2 linked regions of the Homo sapiens genome follow. Each later gene encodes a partner of the first gene's protein in a complex. Each region holds a gene or a part of one and is shown on either strand. Other genes may lie near its edges. The genes, in order: DPP3 and AGT.

Evidence for each region.
Region 2: the proteins of DPP3 (region 1) and AGT are in contact, whole or in part, in a crystal structure (PDB 5E2Q), measured with the Homo sapiens proteins. Residues at the interface, in NP_005691.2 of Homo sapiens: Phe109, Glu316, Tyr318, Glu329, Phe381, Gly385, Ile386, Pro387, Ala388, Gly389, Ile390, Asn391, Ile392, Asn394, Arg399, Val412, Leu413, Val415, Ala416, Phe443, Val447, His450, His455, Glu507, Glu508, Asn545, Arg548, Leu552, Glu555, Phe556; in NP_001369746.2 of Homo sapiens: Asp25, Arg26, Val27, Tyr28, Ile29, His30, Pro31, Phe32.

What each region holds. Positions count from the first base shown.
Region 1 is NC_000011.10:66,475,547-66,485,412, reverse strand, and holds the start of DPP3 (dipeptidyl peptidase 3), read right to left. Parts: upstream 4,980-9,866; 5' UTR 4,948-4,979; intron 3,221-4,947; 5' UTR 3,213-3,220; coding exon 2,943-3,212; intron 241-2,942; coding exon 151-240; intron 1-150. Other genes in the region: PELI3 (E3 ubiquitin-protein ligase pellino homolog 3), read right to left, coding at 9,246-9,815. UniProt on the Homo sapiens protein: Cleaves and degrades bioactive peptides, including angiotensin, Leu-enkephalin and Met-enkephalin. Also cleaves Arg-Arg-beta-naphthylamide (in vitro).
Region 2 is NC_000001.11:230,711,123-230,720,089, forward strand, and holds the start of AGT (angiotensinogen precursor), read right to left. Parts: upstream 3,001-8,967; 5' UTR 2,964-3,000; intron 1-2,963. UniProt on the Homo sapiens protein: Essential component of the renin-angiotensin system (RAS), a potent regulator of blood pressure, body fluid and electrolyte homeostasis.

The sequences.
Region 1 (9,866 bases):
TGACACCCACAGTCATGCAGGGTGGAAGCGACAGGGTCCATGCTCTGCTCAGGGCTTCTGACACTCCAGTTGGGGCTCCTTCTACTGCATTTTCCATCTCTACCCCACCAGCCCCCCATCCCCACCTTCCCCAACCCTCCCTTGGCTCACCTTGGGCAAGTTGGGAACAAACTTGGTGTCACCAAAGGACTTGTAGTTGCCCATGTTGGAGTAAACACCCGCGGCATAGACCAGGAACGCCTGAGGGGGAGGCAGGCATCAGAGACCCAGGAAGCACAGCCTCCCTGACCCCAGCGACACCTCCTCCTGAGATGCGAATGCCCCAGCAGAGCCAGTGTGGGTGAGGCTGGGAAATGTGTGGGCAGGACCTAGGTCCTGGGAAGCCCCAGTCTGGCCCACACTCACTTCCACAGACCCATTTTCACACCCCCGTTGTCTGGCCTAACTGATCTTCTGGGCAGTTCCCAAACACACCCAAGCATTCGTCTGCCTTTTCCCTCCCCACCCCAGCACCCTCTCAGCCACCTGAAGCTACTGTGTCCTTTAAGGCCCAGTTCCAGCAGCACCTCCCTCTTTCTCCAGAGCCTGTCCTCAGCCTCTGACCTGTCAGGCAGCTGGCCTTGGAAGCATCACATGTTAGAGCCGGAGAGGCCTTAATCATCTGTCTATTCTATGGCTTCTGCTGGCCCCAGATCTTCCTCTGGTAACAAGACCTCAATCCTCCTTTTGTGGGTGGGAGGGTGGGGTGGGGGATCTCCCTTCCCCCAGCTCCAGGGGTGGGCATGTAACCTGGCTCAGTCAGTCTGAGAAACCACCATCCTTGGCTACAGGATGGACACAAGGCTCAAGCTGGCATAAGAGAGCTACCCAGGACATTTCCCATTGGCAAAGAGCCTCTGTACACCAGGGATCATCAGGCCTGGAACTCCTGGAGCTCCCCTCCAGGAGTAAGAAAAGCAAGCAAGCTGAGAGACGAAGACTGCATCCCAGTGGTAGCACTGAGTCCGAGTCCAGCCATGCCTGAAACTTCCTCTAGACCTGGACTTTTCAAGCATGTGACCCAACAATTCTCCTTTTCATGTAAGCCAATTTGAGCTGGGTTTCTGCCACTTGCAAACATATGAATTCCCCTAAATGGCCAGGCGTGGTGGCTCACACCTGTAATCCCAAGCACTCTGGGAGGCCGAGGCGGGCAGATCACGAGGTCAGGAGATTGAGACCATCCTGGCCAACATGGTGAAACCCCATCTCTACTAAAAATACAGAAATTAGCTGGGCGTGGTGGTGCATGCCTGTAATACCAGCTACTCAGGAGGCTGAGGCAGGAGAATCGCTTGAACCAGGGAGTTGGAGGTTGCAGTGAGCTGAGATTGTGCCACTGCACTCCGGCCTGGTGACAGAGCGAGACTCCGTCCCCCACAAAAAAAAAAAAGAATTTCCCTGAAAATAATAACGCTTGGGTTGCACCTTTCTGTTTATAAACATTTCCACGGATATTAGCTCTTTTAATGAGTAAGCCAAGGCCTCAAGATGGGAAGTGAATGCCCAAAGTTCAAAAGAGGTAGAATAAACAGTACATCAGCTCAGAGAGAAACAATCCAATCCCTTTATTTCACATATAGAAAAACAGGCCATATTCTTGTACATTCTTGGTGGGAATATAATGCAGTGAAGCTTTTTTAGAAGATGATTTAACAGAATCAGTCAATTGTAAATGTACAGAGCCTTTGACCCAGCAGTTCTTCTAGAAATAGATCCTCCTCACATGTGTGCACAAGTATGCTCACCATGGCACTGTTTGTAAGAAAAACGGGACAAGCTAAATGTCCAGTAATGAAGATTAAATTGATTATAGTGTACACTGCTGTGGAATGCTTTACAGTCAATAAAAAAGAATGAGGTACATTTAAATGTACCCCATTCTCCAAGTTCTTCAAGACATGGCATTCAATGGAAAAAGCAGGACACAAAGCAGGAAAAGAACATTATCTCATTTCTATAAAAAAGAAAATAAGGAACTGATTCACCATGCATATACACATAAATGTATGTAATACACAGATGGGATTGAAAAGGCTGTAACCAAGGCTGGGCACGATGGTTCACGCCTGTAATCCCAGCACTTTGGGAGGCTAAGGCAAGTGGATCACTTGAGGCCAGGAGTTCAAGACCAGACTGGGCAACATGGTGAAAACCCACCTGTACTAAAAATACAAAAATTAGCCCGGTGTGGTGGCACATACCTGTAGTTCCAGCTACTTGGGAGGCTGAGGCATGAGAAGTGCTTGAACCTGGGAGGTGGAGGTTTGCAGTGGGCCAACATTACGCCACTGCACTCCAGCCTGGGTGACAGAATGAGACTCTGTCACAAAAAAAAAATAAAAAATAAAAAAGAGAGAGAAAGAAAAGGCTGTATCAGCCTCAGTGGGTTACCTCTGAGGAGGGCACTGAGAATGAGTGATCTTTGTGTTTTCTTTTGTGTCTTTCTGCATTGCTGCAATGCACTAAGAATTTGTGTATTACTTGGCCAATACATCCAAAAACAAAAACCAAGGGACAGGCAGAACATTCTGCCCAGGGCCACACAGTGTGGTAGAGAAGAACTGGTCCTGAACTCAGACCTCCTGATACCTACTCTGGACTCCTTCTTCTGCCTTCCCTGAATCTCCACCACAGTTTCTTTTGTTATAATCACAGCAGCCATCATTTATCTTGAAGTCAGGCACTGTTCTAAGTGGGTCATCACAACACTAAGAGGTACAGACATCCCACATGCATATTTTACGGGTGAGAAGACTGAGGCTCCAGAGAGGGGAAGTGCCTGAATTTGTAACCTTTGGTCTAATCCTCCACCTACCCCTTGAAAGAGACAGACATTTGCATCCTGGTCTTTCACACCCAGAAGCCACTCAGGTAATGTGGGTTGGCCCAAGAGAACTGACCTGATACTCCTCCTCGGTAAGGCCTTCAGCCAGGGCATGTTGGCGCAGCTGGTCGGGGTCCTGGGCGCGGAAGAGGCGGCTGAGCAGAGCATAGATGTAGGGGGCCTCAGGGGAGGTCTGAAGCAGCACAGCCAGGCCTCCGTACCAGGCGGCACGGGACAGGTGGTAGGCATAGAGGCGCTCTGTGGGTGACAGCAGGCGGAAGGCCTCACGGCAGTCCAGGCTAGACACGCCGATGTCATTGGGCAGGATGTACTGGGTGTCCGCCATGGGCCCTGCTGAGAACCATCACTGTCATCACAGCTGTTGTTTACCCCATACCAATTGCATACCTGGCTCTGAACTCTTATGATCTCATTTAATCCTCCCAAAAGCCCATGTGGAAGGGAATACTATTGTACCCATTCACCAGATATGCTAACTGAGGCTTAGAGAAGGTGAGATGACTCACCCAAGGGGTCACAAAATACACTGGTGGACCATATTTGGTCTGTAGTCCCTAAACCTTAAAGATTGACTCTAAGGTCAGGCATGGTGGCTCACACCTGTAATCCCAGCACTTTGGGAGGCCGAGGTGTGTGGATCACCTGAGGTCAAGAGTTCAAGACCAGCCTGACCAACATGGTGAAACCTCCTTTCTACTAAAAATACAAAAATTAGCCAGGCTTGGTGCCAGGCACCTGTAATCTCAGCTACTGGGAAGGCTGAGGCAGGAGAATCACTTGAACCCAGGAGGTGGAGGCTGCAGTGAGCTGAGACCGCACCATTGCACTCCAGCCTGGGCAACAGAGTGAGACTCCACCTCAAAAAAAAAAAAATTGATTGACTCTAACTACCTAGTATTACAGATGGGGAAACTGAGGTTCAGAGAGGCTAAGAGCCTTGCCTAATCCCACAATGGAGACATCAGCAGCAGAGATCCTCATCTCTAGGCTCCCAGCCCAGGCCCCTCCCTGCTTCCTTGTTCAGTATTATTTTTTTAAGACGGAGTCTCACTTAGTTGCCCAGGCTGGAGTGCAGTGGCATGATCTTGACTCACTGCAACCTCCGCCTCCCGGGTTCAAGCGATTCTCCTGCCTCAGCCTCCAAAGTAGTTGGGACTACAGGCGTGCATCACCATGCCCAGCTAATTTTTTGTATTTTTGATAGAGACGGGGTCTCGCTATTTTGTCCAGGCTGGTCTCGAACTCCTGGCCTCAAGCGATCTGCTTGCCTTGGCCTCCCAAAGTGCTGGGATTACAGGCGTGAGCCACCGCGCCTGGCCTTTGTTCAGAATTCTTTACACTTTCCACTGTGCTCACAAGGATAAAGTGCCAGGCCGCCAGCTGGAAGGCTCAGCCTTTAGCCAGGACTCGGCCCCAGACTCCTAAAAGTCAAGTCCATTGCTTCACTTTTCTGTACCTCCGTTTCCTCCTCTATAAAAGAGAGAATAACCCCAATATTACCAGGTGGGTGCGCTAATCAGATGAAGTCGCCCTGGACGGAAAGTATCCACAGCAATAAATGATTTTGCTTGAAACTGTCCCATTCTCATCCCTCTAAATGCCTTTTCCTTGGCCCTCCATTCTCCTGCTCGCTCCCTGTGCTCCACCAGGGAAGCCACAGAAGTTCACAACCAGAAGAAAGCCCATTTTACAGATAGGGAAACTGAGGCTTGGAAAGGGCAACAATTTACTGAAGGTCTGACAGCCCCGTTGGAACCCGGGGATTCCCCAACCCGGGGCATTCTCCCCGCCACGCCCCGTCCCGGCTGGGACAGAGTGTCCAGCCTCCTCGCCCTGCCCCGGCCTCCAGAAGCCCCGCCCCAATAGCACAGCCTCGAGGTTCGGAAAGGGCTGTTAACTCTTTGCTCCCCGGAGCACTCCTTGGCCTCGAGGGCGGGGTGAATTTGGAGGGGGTACTGGAGAGTGGGCAGAAAGGGAACGATTTTGCGCTCAGTATGGATTCGCCTTGGTCCCCCGGGATGACACGCTTTGACCCCAAAAGCCCAGGCGCCGCGCCTCACCTGCAGCAGCTGCTCCGTTCGCAAACTCACTTCCTGCTTCCGGCTCCCCCATTCATTGGGGCTCTGCGAACCCCGCCCCCCTTGGCCAACTGCCTGGCCTCGGGGTCCGGATGGGCGTCAGTACCAGCCAATAGACGCGCCAAGACGAGCTTCTCGGCTCGCCCGCTCCCGCCCCCAGGCGCTACGGGGTGGCGCGCGGATTGGCCCTGCGGGCTCGGCCTTTTGTCAGCAGGCCGCACACGCGCCGGACCGGGTACCGCTGTGCCCGGCCTGGCCGCGGCCTAGTCCCGGCAGACGGGACTGACGAGGTCACCAAGCCCAGGCCGAGACGGCGCGGGTGTCAGGGACTTGGGAATCCCCCTCCCCCAGTCCCGATCCCGCTTTCCTTTGGGGTTTCACCTCAGAGGACCCGACAGCACTCTTGCAGGTGGGAACCTACACAATAGGAGTAATGTGGCTCCACCTTCCTCTCGGGACTCGGGACCTGGGGGTGGAGACTTGGAAGTTGCAAAGCTCTCGGTGCCGGGAATCGGGGCTACGGTTGAGTGGGATCGGGCCAGGGCTGAGGTGGTCCCACCCGTGTAGGGGCGCGGAGAAACGCCTCGACTGCTTCACTGTACCACCACCCACCCGCCACGGGCCTGGAAGGAGCCGCTAAACATTCCCGAGCCTCAGTTTCCTTAGCACAAACAGGCTGGTAGTTTCCTGGTGCTTGCCAGATGCCTGATGGATGAGAAAGCCTCCTGCGGCCCCGAAAGGGAGTCCAGAGCAGAGGCGGGCCCGCGGTCCACTTTTACAGGTCTGGACGGACTCACGGGACCACGGTCTGGGTGGGGCATGCGGAAGGGCCTAGGCCAAATGGGGAGTAGTGGTGAGGGCCCAGGGTCAGACTGGGGGGTGGAGTGAGGTTGTCTGGGAGTCTTGGCTTTATGAACCGGAAAACCAGGCTAATAATTGAATCCAATCCAAGGGATATTGTAAGTTGTGATGTGTTGACTGCAGTGCCGCTCCCTATAGTTGCGCAGGGTGAGGGGCGTTTGGGTACTGAAATCCCGCACGGTCTCCTTGCTACGCCCGTGTCTAGGCCAGACAGCCTCTGCTTACCATAGACACCAGTTTCTCATCCACAAAGGTGCCCAAGGCCCTGCTTGACACAACAGTGTTACAAGCTGTTAGCTTTGATGATTACTTGTTATATGGGGGAGTTCAACAAGTTGGTCGGTGTCCTTAGGAAAGTCACCCCTCTTCTTTCCTGTGCCTCCGTTTTCATTGTCTTTAAAATGGGTATAAAGTTGGCTGACAGGTGAAGTTGAAATGTGCACAGGTAAGGGAGGTAGTGCTGCCCACTGCCAGCAGGGGGCAGCTCAGGCAAGGAAAAGACCCCAGTGCTCTCAGGACCCCCCAACCAGCTACGTGATCACATTTTTATGATCACAGATAAGATGAGCATATACTGAGGTCCCTTGCTAGCAGTTTGGCATGGAGGACCTCATTTAATTCTTGCAAAAATCCTGAGGTATGATCACTTTACCCATTGTACAGATAGGGAAACTGAGGCTAAGAGGTTCGCCGACTCCTATAACACCACACAGTTCAGATATCCCTGGCCCCAACATAGAGATACACACACACAGTCACTCACATGGAGCAGTCTATCACTGGAGTCATAACTCCCCAGCCTTGGCTCTTCCCCATGGGAATGCAAAAGGGGTCGGTGAGGAGCAACAGTTACGAATCAACTGTGTTACAGGTGCTCTCTGTATATTCACAACCACCTGGCGAGGTAGTGACTGTTATCCCCTTTAGCACTGAGGAAACTGAGGCTCTAACAGCTGGCAAAGGCAGAGCTGGGACAAGACCAGGGCTCTGACCTCCTCCACCAATACCTCTGAATCCTCCCCAGCATCTACTGTGGTGCCCTTTGCTGGTCTTTCCTCCTAGGGTCTGAGGTTCCCCACTGGAAATGGGATCAGAATGTTCCCCTGCCTGGTTCCCAACAGGGTCAGAAGAGAGAACTTGGAAGAGTTGGATTTTGAGTGCTTTGTGTGTTGTGTGTATGTTGAGGGGAGAGAAGTTGGAATGCTCCCACACCTCCTGCAGCATCCCCACCCTCCCCTTCACCCCCACTGCAGCAGTGCCATGCTCTGGAAGCAAGAATCTGATCACACCCTCCTCCTTCTCTCATCACATTCGGGTGCCCTCTGTCTTCTCAATAACCCAGGTCTGATCTCCCTGGCCGCAACCAGCTGTGTGGCCTTGGTCAGGTCCATCCCTCCCCTTGGAATCTGTACTTCCCTAGGCTCTGTCATCTATTGGGGACGATGCCCAGGTCAGGCCTATACTCAGAGCCTTCTTCTCTTCATCTCCAGAACAGCCGTCTGCCTGTCTTCCTGGCTCGCTCCCTGCAGGAATGGTCTGGGGCAACCCCAGCAACACGCCCACCTGTGGCCAGGATGAATAGGAATCCAGTTCAGGCTTGGCTTCCATGGCAATCAAGGCCCACCAGGCCCCAGCAACCTTCCCTACCCCCCATTCCTTTTTGCTGCCCCCCTCCACACCAGGCATGTTCCCTGCCACACCATGCTGTTCCCCTCACCTGGGCTGCCCTCCCAACTCCTCTCTGCCTCTGGAGATGCTCTGCCATTCAAGACTTGGCTCAGGCTCCAGGTCCTCCCTGGGCCTTCTAGAGCCCCTGGTTCTCACTCCTCTGAACACTTCCAGCCTGGCTAATAGCCCACTGCATCCTGGCCTGGGGTACAGGTGGCCAGCACAGGTGTGGGGGCCAGCTTCCAACACAAGCACGGGTAGGTCCCTCTGCAGACCATGGGCTGCAAGAGGCCCGGCCTTGCCCACTGCAGGGGCCCTGCGCAGGGCTGGGCACGAAGCAGGTGGGTGTCCACCAATCTAGTATCCAAAACCCTGCTTGGTTCACCCCCACCTCTGTTGAAGGAAAGCAACACTGTGATGGAGAGGAGCAGCTGTGGATTCAAATCCTGGCTTGGCCACTTTCTAGTTGTGTGACTTGGTGCATCTGCCCTCATCTCCTCAGAGACAAAAATGGCAACACCTCCCTTCTTGGGTTACTATGAGGATTAAATAACAAAACCTCCAAGAAGCAGAGCCCGGTGTCTGGAGAGTGCTCAATGGACGTAGTTATTATTATCATCATCAGCACAGTGCGGGGCACATGGTGGGCATTCAGGGATGATGGCCCTTGTGTCACAGCCGACACTCTTGACCAGTGAGTCCTCTCTCCTCCCTTTGTTGACTCCTGACCGTCCACAAATGAGGTTCAGAATCCTCCATCCAGCATCTTCCCTGGTCACATGGTCCCAACCTTTTGCTCCACCCCCTTCTCTGTTCCCCCCGCAGTCCATGCTCCAGCCATCCTGACTCTGTCCCTGGATTTCTGGCTTACTGACACCTGAGCCTGTGCACAGGCCCTCCCTTCTGTATAGAGCACGCTTCCCATCTTGTGGACTTGCTTCCCATCTTGTGGACTCGGAGGGTTCCGAGCAGCCGTTGAGGCTGAGCTCCTATGACACCTCCTCCGTGAAGCCTCCCTCACTTTTCCATTACCAGTGAGGCCTGCCACAGCCTGATTTGTACTCTGATCCTGGCACGCATGAAGCCGTGTTGCCATTTGTTAACAGTCTGTCCTCCACTAGACTGTGAACTCCACCAGGGGGGGAACCAGGTCTGATTGCCTCTGTGTCCCCAGATACCACTTAGCACAGAGTCGAGCCCATAGTGGCTATCAGCAAGTGCTAGGCCCAGCCTGCCACCCACCCACCACTCACTTGGGGGCTGGAGGCATTGCACGCATGCGGGGCATGTGGGACTTGTGGGGGCAGCTGAGCAGCGAGGTTTATAGAGGAACCCAGGGCGGCAGCAGGAAGGATGAAGGATGAGTGTCTGAAACTGGGTTGGCAGGCTCAGGGCATAGCCAGCCTAAGCTGGGGGTCAAAGGCCCCTGGCCCCTTCACTCCCCCAGGGGCACACAGTGTCGGCGGCACGATGTGGGATGCCCCAGGAAGGGCAAGGCCATGGGGCTGGGCTTTCCTCCATCGACCCAGGACAGAGCTGGTGCTGAAGGCCCCATCAGCATGACTGGGGTGGAGATCTTGGGGACCTCCTTGGGGGGCCACAGTTGGGGGGAAGGGCACAGCCCATCCAACATGTCCATCTGGTGTGGCTGTGCCAGCAGGGAGTGTCCCACATGCAGAGCTCCCTCTGGGCTGCAGGAGGTGGGGACCTGGGTGGGCAGGTGGGCACAGCAGCAGGGGGCCCCAGGGAGCCTAATCCAGCGGGCCCTGGAAAATGAGGCGGACGCAGCCATGCTCGCCGGTAAGCCAGGCCCCGCAAAAGGGGCAGGCGGCATGGAAAGCATGGGTGCCGTGGGGCAGTGGTGTCTGGGCCCAGTAGCGGGCAGTCTTCTCAGAGCAGACGTGGCCGCAAGGTGCAAAGGCATGGCTAGGCGGCCCAGGGTCCAGGCAGAGGCCGGCCTCCTGGCCAAGCCATAGAGGCACATAAGGCCCCACAAGGCGGCAGAGAGGACATTCGCGCTCCTGGGGGCCCCGCTCCCGCCGGCAGCCCCAGCCGTGGTAGCCATGGACGTGCCCGCAGCGGACGTAGACCCAGGGCTGCTGTTTGTCGGGCGCTGTGCGGCCACGGGCTGGGCTGGGGAAGGCCAGAGTGCTGAGGCCCACGGGGCACTGGGGCCGCGCTGCATTTGCCTCCTGCCGCTGGGCCTCCAGTTGCTTCAGTGTGGGAGCCCGCAGCAGCCCCGCCGGTGTGCGCCACAGCAGTGTGGCCCCACACAGGTCGATGAGAGAGCCGTCCTGCAGCACGTTGGACTCGTTTTCCACCTGCCAGAGGCAGTAGAAGGGCCTTACTGCCCAAGAGGCCCCTGCTGAGCC
Region 2 (8,967 bases), on another chromosome or scaffold:
CTCAGAATGTGACCATTATTTGGAGACAGGATCTTTAAAGAGATGATTAAGTTAAAATGAGGCCATGAGGGTGAGCCCTGATCTAATATGACCTGTGTCCTTATGAGAAGAGGAGATGAGGACATGGACACACACAGAGGGAAGACCATGTGGGGACACAGAGGGAAGACCATGTGGGGACACAGAGAGAAGACGGCCATCTACAAGCCAAGGATAGAGGACCCAGAGGAAACCAACTCTGCTGATGGCTGGCTCCCAGGCTTCTAGCTTCCAGAACTGTGAGATAACACATTTCTGTTGTTAAACCCTCCCAGTCTGTGGTACTTATGGCAGCCCAAGCAGATTAAGACATGCTCCTGCCTGCAGCTGTAAGTTCTCTTCCTAGAGAAACAAGTGTGTGCCAATCAGTAGGTCTTTGTGGAGGCCTCCTAGACCCCTGAGATGCTCATTCGAGGGCCCTAGGGTGAGGGCTGGGGATGGTTTTGTCATCTCCCTGTGGTCCCAACATGCAGCCGGGATTGAGCACCACAGGCTCAGCCCAAAGTCCAAGTATTTCCCACGTGTCTCAACCCCAAAACCAGCTCTCAACCATCCCTGCATAGCGCTATCCCCTGCAGAGCCCCAAAGGCATGCATACCTAGCATGGCTTGCCCAATGATAGTTGGATTCCTTAGTCTGTGCTGGGACCACGTATAAAAAAAAAAAAAAAAAAATAGAAAATTCTCAGGTGACTCTGATATGTAAGCAGGGTTTAGAACCCCTGCCCTAGACACGGGTCCAGCACCACGTTCTCTCAAAGGCCTTGCAGCTGGGCTTCAGCCTCAGCTGCTACAAATGAAAGCTACCCTGAGACCCCCAGAAGAGGTTCTTGGGCTGGCCCTGCTAATTCATTTCATCTGACTCTTCTTGATTGAAGGGATGAACGTTTATTCTATTGATTCATTCAATTCTAACATTTTGTACCACATCTCACTCATTTCTTGTGGAGGGGGGTGTACTGCAATATCGTCACTTCTTGGCCTTTTCTGTCCCCCCAGGGCTAGGCCAGGCTTCCTTGGAGCTGTAGCGTGTCATCACTGACTCAAGGCCACCTTGATGCCTAGATTTTTCTGCTTCATCTAAGCATACCCAGTCATTCTTCTTACATTGGCAGCTGGCTTCCCTCACCCAGACCCGTAACCAGCACCTGCCCTCAACACGGTGCAGCTGCTGAAGTACCTGGTGTGTTTTGTTCTGCTTCAGTCATTCAAATGCCAAATTCTGACCTCAGCTACCATCTCACCCCACTCCCCATGCATTTGACTCCATCCGCTGTTCTCAGGAAGAGCCACATGACATGGAAAAATGGAACAGAAAACTCTCTCTGCTGCTTGCAGGCCTTTCTGTGCAGAGAAGCCTAAGCCACCAGTTCACACCTAATCTAGACAGTCACATCAAATCAGGTCAACAGGGGAAACCTGTGGGAACCGACTGCTGGGAAGTCCTGCCTGACAAGCGCCAACTGTTCGGGGTTTGGATGGCGCTGGTCGATGCAGCCCGCTCACTGTGCTGCTCCTGCTCAGGCAGCGTCTCCAGAGACGCAATTCCATGGGCCATTTTTGAGGCAGAGACTGTCGTTTGTTCTCAGTTGTGATCTGCGGCTGCTCCCTAGGCTGGTTCCAGGTCTGCACGCAGCCGCGTCCTGGGAGTAATGGTGCTCTGGGGTGGCGGGCCTGACACCCTCGCCCTGAGTGCCCCTCCGCCTTCTCCTCTCCTGCCCCTGCCTCTTGGCCAGCACCTGCCCCTTCTATGTCTCCCTACTTCTCCCGGGCTGAATGCTAAAGGTGAAGATGACGGCTCATGCTCCTGTGGTGCCTGCCATTTGCAGGGCACTGTTCTCATATCAACCCCTCTGACCTCACCATAGTCCTCACCTTCCCTGAGGTTTCCCTGATGCAGTATTTCACCCTGCAGCTTTCCCCACCACACCGGGCACTCTCAACTCTCTCATCCAGCTCCCCTTTTCCCTCCTTATAACCCTCTGTACCATGTAGTTATGCACTTATTCTGTCCAGCGTCTTTGTCTGTTTGCTCTGATGTGAATGTGAGCCCCGGAACAGGGTTCCCGCTGTTGTGTTTACTAATACAGCCCACATTCCTAGGATAGTCCCTGGGACCTACTGCATCCTGGAGAAGTAGTTAATGAATTGGTTCATGCTGTTTTGCAGAGGAACAGAGAGGTCCAGTGACTTGTTCAACGTCACACAGCTGGGAAGAGACAGAACTAGGACTCAGAACCAGGCCCCCTGACTCTGTCATCCACGAGCTGAAGCACCAATCTACGCTGCCCTCGAATAAAATTGGAATCTGCCTTTTAGCTTATCCCAAAGCTTAGAAAGCACTTTCATGTTATATTAGTTCTCTTCAGCTATACCAGAGCCCCTGAGACAGGGAGCCCAGGCATCGTTATTAGTTCCATTTTATAGGTGAGCAAATCGAGGTTCAGGGAGATGGTGACCAGCCTGATGACACACAGTCAGGCAGTCTGTCTCGAGGGAGGGGTAGGGTGACCACTCTGGGGATCCCAGCTGGAGACTGACCGAGCCCGGCCCTTCCCTCCAGCCCCAATTCCTGCACAAGCCCTGCTATTCCTCCTGATGGCAAGAGGACCCGGTGGACTCTTGGCCATGATGACTCTGTTCCTGTACCAGTCTGCTCCGTTCCTGAGGACCCTAACTTTTCTCAGCGGAAGCAGGAAGACCTGACCATCTTGTCCTATTGCTGAGGAGGAGCAGCTCCTCCTGTAAGACCCCAGGTGGGCACCGAGTGGGGGAAAGCCCGCGTCCGGATGACTGGTCTTATGAGAGGGGAGAGGTTTTTCAGTCATCACCGTGCCTCCTCCCGGCCTTTTCCTCCTAGCCCACAGCTCAGTTACATCTGAGAGAGACAAGACCGAGAAGGAGCTGAGGGGGCCCCCGGCTTACCTTCTGCTGTAGTACCCAGAACAACGGCAGCTTCTTCCCCCGGCCGGGTCACGATGCCCTATTTATAGCTGAGGGGTGGGGATGGAGCTGTTCCCAGGCTGCCTGTGCACAGGCTGGAGAGGAGGGTTACATCACTTGGCCAGACCACAGGCTGGCCAGAAGGACAGATGCCAGAAGCGACACTCACGCTGGGACCTCTTCCAGGAAGTCTTAGTGATCGATGCAGAGTTTCACTGCTGAACAGAGTGAGCCGGTGCAGGGTCGAGTTACACATTTACCGAAGTTTGCAGGAGTCGGGGCCAAGGTTCCCAGAAACGGGAGCATCTCCCTAGGTGTGTGACAGCCTGAGGCCAACCACCCAGGCCTTCTGACCCAGCCCCGGGAGATGTACCCCCAAGAGGCCACAGGGACATGCAGGCCGGAGGTGCAGAGGGCAGAGGGCAGGGGAGAGTCTTGCTTAGGCAACACGGGGGCCACTTCTGACCCTGCTGCCCGCTCATGGGATGTGTGACCTTCAGCTGCTCCAAAGAGCCTACCCTGTGCAAAGGCCTCTAATAGACACTGGGGAAAACACACAAGCAAGTGAAAAGTGCCTTCTGGAAGTTTCCAGTGTAGCTGGGGAGACTGTTAAACACCAACAATAGCACAGCCAGATTGAAAGACACAAACAAAATGCCTTCAGGATGCAGGCATTGAAAGATGTGCTGTTCTGTGTTTATGCTGTACAAATTGCAAATGGTAAGTTTCACATGACCAGTAAAAGGGTTATAATTCTTATTTTCCTATAGGTAAGACTTGCTTTTGTAGTCATTATAACAGGGCATGACAGAGACCTTGGTGAGAGTCGCCAGAAGCCAGTGATCACAAGTGACGCAGTGGGTGAGGCAGGTTGGGAGTGGTGATGTGTCCAGCCTTAAATACATGGTATTAGGGCACTGAAGGGACAGGAAGGAAGATCCTGCTTCAACACAAGCAGGTTCAAGGAGCCACGGCATATCCACGATGGCAGACATGAAATTACCCAGGAATGGAACATTTAACAACAAAGAGCAGGAAGAGATGGTGCCTGGATATGAGGCAGAAGCTGTACATTCACTGACTGAACAATCAACAAACACACAAATACCTCTTTTTTACCCATTACTCTAAATCTTCATTTAAAAAAATCATATCTCACATGGGCCTGTAAATTCTGAAATACATTTTTTTAATTACTTTGTTCCTATAGATAGGGACTCCTCAAAAATCACTTGTCTGGGGCCCCACAGCGACTTAGAGGTGGCTTTGTCTGAACAGAACATTCGGGCCAGGTACAGTGCCTCGCATCTGTAATTCAAACACTTTTTGAGGCCAGGAGATGGAGGTTACAGTGAGCTATGATTGCACCACTGCACTCGAGCCTGGGCTACAGAGTAAGACTCTGTCTCTAAATAAATAGACAATTTTAATTTAATTTTTTTAAAATAAGAGACCATTCAAAGTGCTCCTGCCTGCGAATGGGTTAGTTGGAACAGTAGAGACTGGGGTCCTAGGCCTGGCTGTGCCACTAACTAGTTGTTTGAGGATCAGCAAGTGGTTTAACTGCAGTAACAAGTCCACCTGGACACAAGGGGGAGGTAAGGATCTAGCACTGATTAAGCAACAACCTTGTGCCCAGTGTTTAAATATTTCGGCTCTTTAAAGCCTCACAATTTGTTTCATTCACTCACTATTCCTGGTGCTCAGCATATGTCAGGGAACAAAACAAAGATCCTGGTCTTTGGGAGAGTTTCCACTGTGCCTGGGCCTCCTGCCTCGGGCCCTTGGAATGATCACTCCATTCAACAGCAAAGATAATAAACAACTGATCAGGTAACATGCTGGAAAGTGGTGTAAAAGAAAATAAAATTTCAGGACCCTCTAAATTTGGCCTCTAAGCAAGCCAAACTTCTCTTAATAATGACACGTTACTGGGGAGAACATAAGAAAATAATTTTGGTTAGATTGGACCCAATAAAGAATATCTGCTTAAACTTGTTGCAAGATTGGTTAAAAGCCCTTAATCCATGCCCAAGGCTGACTATCAGCTGGGGGATCTTCTACGTAAGGCTTTAAAGCTCATTAAAATCAATCAGAAAATTGCTAGAGAATTTTATTGAGAATGTAAATTATTCCCATAAGGAGCAGCCATTCAAACTGACTGCAGACATTTGACCCAGCTCAGATTCAGGCCAGTTTTCTTCCCAGTAGGCACCTTCTGTGTTCATTCCATCAGTGGAAGTTTCTTATGTGTACATTCCATCAGTGGAAGTTAGGGACAGAGCTTATCTGTGGCTAAATGAAGACTGTTGAATGAAAAGCAGAGGTTCTACATAGAAACCAAATAAGCCATCTGATATGGTTTGGCTGTGTCCCCACCCAAATCTCCAATTGTAGCTCCCATAATTCCCATGTGTCATGGGAGGGACCCAGTGGGAGGTAATTGAATCATGAGGGTGGATCTTTCTGATGCTGTTCTTGTGATAGTGCATAAGTCTCATGAGATCTGATGGTTTTATAAAGGGGAGTTCCCCTGAACATGCTTTCTCTCTTTTGCCAGCCACCATGTAAGATGTGCTTTTGCTCCTCCTTCACCTTCCACCATGATTGTGAGGCCTCCCCAGCCACGTGGAACACATAAGTCCATTAAACCTCTTTTTCTTTATAAATTACCCAGTCTCTGGTATGTCTTTATTAGCAGCGTGAGAACAGATACCATCAGTCAGAATCGGATCCAGGAAACCAGCCACATATGGAGTCAGCAGAGCATGATGTATTAGTCAGGCAGGTGCTATTGGGATATGTAGGGAAAAAAAAGAGAGATCAGACTGTTACTGTGTCTATATAGAAAGGGAAGACATAAGAGACTCCATTTTGAAAAAGAGCTGTACTTTAAACAATTGCTTTGCTGAGATGTTGTTAATTTGTAGCTTTGCCCCAGCCACTTTGACACAGCCCTAGATCCCTTAAACCTTGATTTTATACAACACATGTTTTTGTGAGCTCCAGGTTGGGTCAAAGTGGCTGGGGCAAAGCTACAAATTAACAACATCTCAGCAAAGCAATTGTTTAAAGTATAGCTCTTTTTCAAAATGGAGTCTCTTATGTCTTCCCTTTCTATATAGACACAGTAACAGTCTGATCTCTCTTTCTTTTCCCTACAGGGATGATGACGTTTGGGATCAGTTCTACTCTGTGGTTTCTGAGATGAGACTTGGTCTAAACTAGAACTCCTACTTTCCAATCTCTTGACCACCCAGCTAGTCATGGGATGAACACATAAACTCCTCTCTCCAGCAAAACTAAACCAAACCAGGAAAGCAGATTATTTATTTATGTATATGATGCAATCAAACCTGGAACCAGCTGTATGAGGTAAGGAAAGAATGAAGGGTAAATACAGGAATGGGGTTTCCATTTTTTGCCTCTGAGCCAAAACTAATTGTTTCACAGGAGCCTTGTTCTCTGCTGGGATCAGAACTGCAACCCCACATCATGCCTTGGAAGAGGCATGTGAGCCCTGAACATCATTTACTGGAAAGCAGGAAGAGGGGTGGAGCCTACTGTCCTGCATCCCATGATGGATCCTTGAAGTTCCAAGTTTTCCTTGCATGACAAGGACACTTCCCAGCATTTCTGGTCCTCATTGCTGCCCATCTATATCATGGGGGCTGGAACCGGGCATTTGGAGCTCTCGATTTGTAAAATGGGCTCATTAGGGAAAAGTCCATTTCTTTCCAATAAAGAACACTCAAATACAAACAGAATTTTCTTAAGTTGGCTCACATGGGCTTTAGACTCCTGACAAATAAAACAAAATAGTCTGAGCTCCCCCATTTCACCCAGGAGAAATGGCTGTATTTTTGTGTGTTGTTTTAGAGTTGGGGTCTTGCTCTGTCCTCCAAACTGGAGTGCAGTGGCATGATCATGTCTCAAAGAATCCTCCTGCCTCAGTCTCCAGAGTAACTAGGACTACAGGTGCATGCTACCATATCTGGCTAATTTTTTTATTTTTATTTTTTGTAGAGATAGGGTCTTGCTATGTTGCCCAGGCTGATCTTGAACTACTGGTCTCAAGTGATCCTCCTACCTCAACTTCCCAAAGTGTTGGGATTACAGGCATAAGCCACCATTCTCAGCCTGTTCTTTCTTTTTTAATAATAATTTTTATTGTATTTATATAAGGTGTACAGCATGATATTTTGATATGAAGATAGTAAAATGATTATGGTAGTCAAGAAAATTAACATATCCATCATCTCACAGTTACTCATTTAGGTGGCAAGGACACGTAAAGTCTACTCTTTTAGCAAAAATCCCAAGTGCAATGTGACATTTTTAAGTATAGTCCTCATGTTGTACGCTGGATCTCTAGACTTGTTCATCGTATATATCTGCTGCTTTGTATCATTTGACCTACATCTCCTCCCTGCTCTCCTCCTCAACTCCTGGTAACCACTGTTGTATTCTCTATCTCTGTATATTCACTTTAAAAAAAAAAAAGATTCCACATATAAATGAGGTCATGCAGTATTTTCCTTTCTGTATCTGCCTTGTTTCATTTAGCATAATGTCTTCCAGTCATCCATGTTGTAGCAAGCGGCACAGTTCCACACCGCTTTTTTTTTTTTTTTTTTTGTGAGACAGGGTCTCACTTTGTCACCCAGGCTGGAGTGCAGTGGCACAATCATGGCTCACTGCAGTCTTGACCTCCCTGGCTTAAGTGATCCACCCACCTCTGCCTCCCTGGTAGTTGGGACTACAGATGCATGCCATGACACCTGGCCAACTTTTTTGTACTTTTTTGTAGAGACAGGGTTTCACCATGGTGCCCAGGCTGGTCTCAAACTCCTGAGCTCAAGTGATCTGCCCACCTCAGCCTCCCGGAGTGCTGGGATTAAGACATGAGCCACCATGCCTGGCCTTTATGCTTTTTTGAAGGCTGAATAGTATCCCATTGTGTGTATACAGTATGCCAAATCTTTATCTATTCATCTGTTGACAGACAGAAGTCGTTTCCATATCCTGGCTATTGTGAATAATGCTGCATTGAACTTGGGAGTGCAGATATTGTTACTAGGTGTTGACTTTATTTCCTTTGGTATATTCCCAGATGCCTGCTCCTCCTATTGAATCCTTTTAGACATCACCTGATACCTCGGGCAGTGCCCTATGGACTGCTGTTGATTCAGACATAGCTGTCCATGAGCTGGAGGAAAACGGTCATATAAGATAAAGTTCTGGGAAATTTTGTGATTGCAGCACATTTCTTTCTATTTTTTATTATTATTATTATCATTATGTTTTTTTTTTTTTTTTTTTGAGACGGAGTCTCGCTCTGTCGCCCAGGCTGGAGTGCAGTGGCGGGATCTCGGCTCACTGCAAGCTCCGCCTCCTGGGTTCACGCCATTCTCCTGTCTCAGCCTCCCTAGGAGCTGGGACTACAGGTGCCCGCCACCATGCCCAGCTAATTTTTTGTATTTTTAGTAGAGACGGGGTTTCACCGTGTTAGCCAGGGTGGTCTCGATCTCCTGACCTCGTGATCCGCCTGCCTCGGCCTCCCAAAGTGCCGGAATTACAGGCATGAGCCACCACACCTGGCTAATTGCAGCACATTTCAAAAGTTATAACCAAGCCAATGGCTTTTCTTGTCAACAGTTGCAGATTTATAAATAAGAAATGAGTCGTTTACCTCTATCAATGTCAACATTAGCTGACATAATTAGTGAATCCAGTTTCAGGTACTTATGAAAAATGGTGTTATCAAGCAAAAAGTGATTGCTGCCTGATGCACTAGAAGCCAGTGCTATGACTCTGGGTTTTTGACAAAAGAAAAGCTTTCTATTGCAACAGGGGTCAAGCTCAAACCTGTCTCCCTGAGATGGCTTTAAGGCAGGGCATAATTTTATTAGAAAAGGTTTAGGGGGTGGATATTGGGATTGTAGGTGATTAGTGAAAGGAAAGGGGAGGCCTAGAAAATCCTCAG